2 separate regions of the Homo sapiens genome follow, and region 1 is linked to region 2. Evidence: fine-mapped expression QTL. A gene starts in region 2. The other region holds a variant in brackets. All regions are shown on one strand. Distances are between the middles of the regions.

What was found.
Region 1: its variant is fine-mapped to the expression of CAV2 in whole blood (INTERVAL, PIP 0.94).

What each region holds. Positions count from the first base shown.
Region 1 is chr7:116,338,680-116,341,592 of GRCh38, forward strand. LOC124900233 (a long non-coding RNA gene) reads left to right here. Exons shown (of 3, transcript XR_007060487.1): 2 at 1,144-1,240. Among named protein-coding and RNA genes, the nearest start is that of TES, 130 kb to the left of the region's middle. The variant G/C (reference allele first, on the strand shown) is at 1,091.
Region 2 is chr7:116,498,562-116,501,474 of GRCh38, forward strand. CAV2 (caveolin 2) reads left to right here and starts at 1,177. Exons shown (of 3, transcript NM_001233.5): 1 at 1,177-1,370; 2 at 1,699-1,886. The coding sequence starts at 1,221. It overlaps CAV2-DT (CAV2 divergent transcript), which reads right to left and starts at 955. Exons shown (of 3, transcript NR_188012.1): 1 at 793-955. RefSeq lists enhancers at 192-693, 740-879 and a silencer at 1,060-1,149.

The sequences.
Region 1 (2,913 bases), 160 kb before region 2:
AAACCACACCAGCTGTTTAATTACCTGGGTCCAGAAGTAACAGGTGCCACTACCTCTCACATTCTATTAGTGGAAATTAGTCACATGGCCTCTCCTAACTGCTAGTAAGTATAGAAAAGTTGGTTTTGGCTGGGCAGCCACAAGACAAAGCTACTAAGAAAGACATAGCATTAATTTTATGTTGTTAGCCATCTCTGCTATAAGCGTAAGTCAAATAGAATTTTCATTTTTCTTAAGTCTTTGAGAAAAACATTGGGACAAACATTAACTGGAATATTGATATCCATTAGGTATGAGCTTGATTGTTTCTAACTCATATTTCAAAATTACCAGATATAGCAATTCAGGGAAGAAGAAAAAGGTTTAAAGACTGTGACATTCAGACTGCTATATTCAATACAGAAAAGATATTTGGTGATATTTCTATCCCTTTTTCTTAAATGTACATTCTTCTGGGATTTAATAAAGTCACATTCTGATTTTTAAAAATAGTACTATTAATCTCACTATAGAGCTCTGAAAATAATAGAATCGTGCTGTTATATTACAGCAGTTATTGATTGTCCATTTTTTCCAAAGACACTGAGATCTATGGAAGAAATAAGCCTCATTATTTTTCATTTGTATTTAATGTAGATGCAACAAAAGTTATATACTTCTTTATTATATATTTTGTCATGCCTATTAAATGCCAGTTATATAAGATGATTCCTGATCCAAACACAGTGCTTTATGTTATTGGGATTAAAAGAATTAGTTAAAGCTTTAAGTTAAATTACTTTTGAATTCATTTATGGCTAGGTACACATGAAATAAACACTCTACATTGTCTACAGTGGTAATTGCCAAGAAAAAGAGTATATTTTAGTAACAATTTGGCTAAGCGCCTCAAATTCAAAGTAATTCCACATTTAAATACTAACACTCAAACCTGAAAGTTGTCTTTAAAAGCTTTATAAATTGTTTCTGGTGAGGGTTTTACGACTATGGGGTGGGTGGAAAGGGGAGGAAGGAAGAGGGACTGCCTCACTATAAGCTGATAACAAGGTTGCTAAAAATTGCTCTTATCAATGGTCTTTGCACTTAACTT[G/C]TTTAAATAAAAGAAAAAACTTCATGTGAGTCATCGTATTTTGTTCACTACAGCTTGGCAGGTCACCTTGTTCTAGCAGATAGAAACTGAATCAATATGGGAAGAGCCAGAATTTGGACAAGGTTCACCAAACATTCACACTGATGCCAGGTGGGCCAAGAAAAAGGGAATGTCCTGCCTCTGAGGTATCTAAAAATTTTTATGTTTAAGTCAAGGGTTTTGTGTTGTGAAGGCAGAGCTTTGAATTTCTAATAGAAGAAGAAAAGCAGAATATACCCAGAAACTCCTGATTAAATTTATGGTCCTCTAATAATATTTTAACTTTAAAGGAGTCAGACGGCATTCTAGAAAAGAGCCCTTTGGTCAATGCTTTCCTATCTATAGTTTAATCAACCCTTCCATATATGCACATATTAAGCAAATTCAAATGACATTAAAAATAAGTTACATTTCTTATTCTAACCCCTGCCATTCATCCCGCTTTCCCCCCATTGTCACACATATGCCCACTTCCACTTCTGCACATAGGAAGAAAGGGTGAATAAATGTCAGAATCAAGTGGAAAGATTAATCATAGGCTGTTTTTTACATTGTTTTATTCTGAGTCAGAATACGCTTTACAGGACATAGGCAAGCACTTGAAATATAGGACTCAGAACATAAGATGCTTCGTAGGACCCAGGCAAGCACAGCAATTAAATGGAATTCCACATTTTTAAGGAAAGCTTTTTACTTTTCTTCCTCTTTTTGTTTCTCTTTACTTTTGCAGCTCCCTTCAAAAGTCCTTTCTGTGAGACACATTTTTAACTACCATATTGTTCAATTTTAACAAGAGTTCAGGGTGAGGAAGGTTATAGCTGAGGCATTTACAAGGATTTCCTGTTTGTAGTGGCTGCTTTTTCCTCTTTGGTAATGTGTTTTTCACATTTTTTAAAAGCTGCCTGTATGCATTAATATTACTTAATCTCCATCACCTTAAGAAACCATATGGGGCAGGGAGAGGAAGACCGGTGCTGGCTCTTTCCCTTTCTCAATGACTTGAGACACCTTAACCTTGCTTAACTTTTTCTAGAAAATGAAGATAGTAACACCTGCTCTGAATTGTCACAGAATTATTGTAAGGCTCAAATAAAATCTATGTATTTAAGGAATCAATATGTAATAAAGATCTTGAAGTGTTAGTAGTCGATTATATCTGAGATACATTCGCCAATATCCAAGGGGGACAAAGAGAGCTCCATACCCCGGGGGAAATGTAGTCCACTGACAATTTGTCCACACAATTAGAATACAAAATAGCACCCTATGCCTCAACTTTTTTACAGTCAAAGAAAGCATGAGGCATAAATAGTCCTGAAGGGATGTGGAGTCTGTTTGCTCTGCATATGATTTGCATATGCTCCTCTGAAAAGTCACCGGGCAACCGAGTAATTGTACAGTAATGATGTGGTTAAAAAAACAGATTGATCTACTTTTATTATTATTGTTACAAAATAATACATATATTTTTAAAATTCAAACGATACTAAAAGTTACATTCCCTGTCCTACTCCCTGTCACTTATACCATTTCCCAGTTTCTGTTTTTAGTTCTGATGGTTTCCTTTTTGCTCTCCACTGTGACTGATATACATTTATACTTCTATTTTTTGATGACTCAAGTTTCGATAGTATCTTCTCACTCCCAGTACAAGATATTCAGTACACAAAAGATATCCTTTTCTCTCCTGAGTTTCATTTTACGTGTGTATGAACACACAAACATGCTAACACACATGCTCACACAATCTTTTAGCTCTTGTATAGGTTCCTGAATTAATTGTT
Region 2 (2,913 bases):
ATGTGACTGCATCTTAGAAGTTCCTGAATCTTTCAAGACAGTCTGGTTCACAAGAAAATTAAAAGGTGGAGGTCGGGCGCGGTGGCTCACGCCTGCAATCCCAGCACTTTGGGAGGCCGAGGCGGGCGGATCACCTGAGGTTGGGAGTTCGAAACCAGCCTGACCAACATGGGGAAACCCCGTCTCTGCTAAAAATACAAAATTAGCCAGGCGTGGTGGTGCATGCCTGTAATCCCAGCTACTCGGGAGGCTGAGGCAGGAGAATCGCTTGAACCCGGGAGGCAGAGGTTGCGATGAGCCGAGATCGTGCCATTGCACTCCAGCCTGGGCAACAAGAGCGAAACTCTGCCACACACACACAAACACACACACACACACACACACGGTGTAGTTTAGGAAGTAAAAAAAAAAAAAAAAAAAAAATCAGATCTCCCCTCACACCTCAGATCTGAAGGCACAAACTCTAGGGCCAGGGCGTTCGCCTACCCAACTCCACATGCACTTGCAGGTCACCTAGCACTCAGGTACCTAGCACTCAGGTACATTGTGGCTCCTTACCTCTCACGACAGCAGCAACAACGTTGATTGGAAGTTTATCACTGTGTGTTACGGGCCATGGGCCATGTGTGTTAGAATTTTATGTGAAATTAACATTTAATTCTCACGGACACCCCTGAAACAGATGCCACAGCCCCCATTTTGCCAACGAGGCAGCTGAGGTTCCCAGAGGCTCAATACCAGCACCATGAGCCGCAGCACGCAAGGCAAACACAGCCGGAGGTGAGCACATACCTGCTTCGCACCCCATGCGCCTAACCACAAGGTTCCCTCCCTCCAGGAAGGCCGTTGTCTTCCCTGGGACGACTTGCCAGCTCTGAGGCATGACAGTACGGGCCCCCAGAAGGGTGACCAGGAGGCCCTCCTCGTCCCAGCTGCCGGCGTCGCCGCCCACTGCAGGGCCCGGGCTGTGACTCGTGGGGACGGTTCCCTGCGCCCCGGCGGGGGAGGTGGGCGGGGAGGGGCGGCGGGGCGCCGGGGCGGGGCTCGGGACGGCCGGGCTGGGAGCTGGAGCCCACAGCGGGAAGCGGCCGCCGCCCGGGCCTCGCAGGGCTAGGCGAGGCGAGGGGGGGCGGGGCCGGGCGCTACGGGAAGGGGAGGCCGCGCGGACCGGGAGCCGCACCGCGCCAGCCGGGCTGCAGCGGCCGCGCACCAAGGCTGCGATGGGGCTGGAGACGGAGAAGGCGGACGTACAGCTCTTCATGGACGACGACTCCTACAGCCACCACAGCGGCCTCGAGTACGCCGACCCCGAGAAGTTCGCGGACTCGGACCAGGACCGGGATCCCCACCGGCTCAACTCGCATCTCAAGGTGAAGCCCGGGGCGGGCGGGCCCAAGTCCCCGCTGAGGCCGGGAGGTGCGGGCGCCCCTCAGCCCCGCCCTAACCCGTCCCACCATTGCTACCGGGTCGGCCCCGCAGGGTCTGAGACCCGCACCCTTCCCCGGTCCCACCCGTCACCAGGCCGCCCGCGTAGCCAGGAATTCTTAGCCAGGTTCCTGTGCGCCCACCGTGACCCTAAGAGAAGAGGCGGACGCCCTGGCACGTCCTTCCCTCCTGCTTCCCCCGCCCAAAGCGCTCCCGGTTCCCGGGGCGTCAGGTTGGCTGACAGTTCGGGGTCCCTGCGTCCTGTCTCCTCAGCTGGGCTTCGAGGATGTGATCGCAGAGCCGGTGACTACGCACTCCTTTGACAAAGTGTGGATCTGCAGCCATGCCCTCTTTGAAATCAGCAAATACGTAATGTACAAGTTCCTGACGGTGTTCCTGGCCATTCCCCTGGCCTTCATTGCGGGAATTCTCTTTGCCACCCTCAGCTGTCTGCACATCTGGTGAGACGGGGCACACCGGGTGGACCGGCTTTCTGAAACATGGGCATATTCTCCGCCACCTGCCCCCTACTCTCCTCTTATCCCAGGCCGGCGTCAGGAGGAGGAACGCGCATCAGTTCCCAAGCAGTAGGAAGAACTGGAAGGCCTTGAAAGGCAATGCGCTTCCTTTAGAATAACAGTTTGGGCTTGGAGTTTCAACAGGAGAAAGAATGTCGGTCTTTCCTGGGGTGTGATTTTCCTTGCATACATAAGGCTGGGCTGAGTGTGGAGGCGGGTACCTGGAAGCCACACTTCTTACCACAGGCTGCTCTCGGGGCCCTGTTGTGACTCGTACCTGCGGTTCTGGGCAGGACTCTTCTTTCTTTCATTGCCTTTTATTCAGTCACTGCCTGTGCTTGGGGTAAAACAAAAGTGATCTCTGAGCAGAATGCCGCTGACAGTAGAATTGGATGAGGATGTCAGACCTGGTTAAGCAGTAGTGTGGAGGGGCTGCTTCAACTTTGCCCCTGGCAGATGGCAAGGATGGGACCCAGAGGAAAGGGAGGTGTGTGCAGTTAAGGCGAGGGTCCCCCCCAGTACAAACGAATGAAAACTCCAGCTGCGGGATAATGAATGAGAAGGCCTCCAAATTACTTTTTCACTGATGAAACACAAATGGAAGTGGCATATAATTAAAGGGGAAAGAAATATGGAAGCCCACTGTATATTGATAGGATATTTTGAGTAACTCTATTCATACTCAAAATGTGTCCTAAACTGTAGAGAACTTTCTTAAGCATCTTTTAAATTTTTTATGGAAAATGTCATATTTTACCAATAAATGTTGTTGTGTTAGAAAATATCCACTTTAATCTGAGAGGAAGAATATTCAGATCATCCCCAGTATCACAACAGTTGTCACGCTAGTGCTTCAGGTTAGTCCTGGTGAAAGGTATAACCCAAGGTACCTCCGTGTCTTTCTTACACCTTTTATGATATTGCCACACCCTGATAAATACTCGGTGTTCATTGTTAGAAGTTACCAATT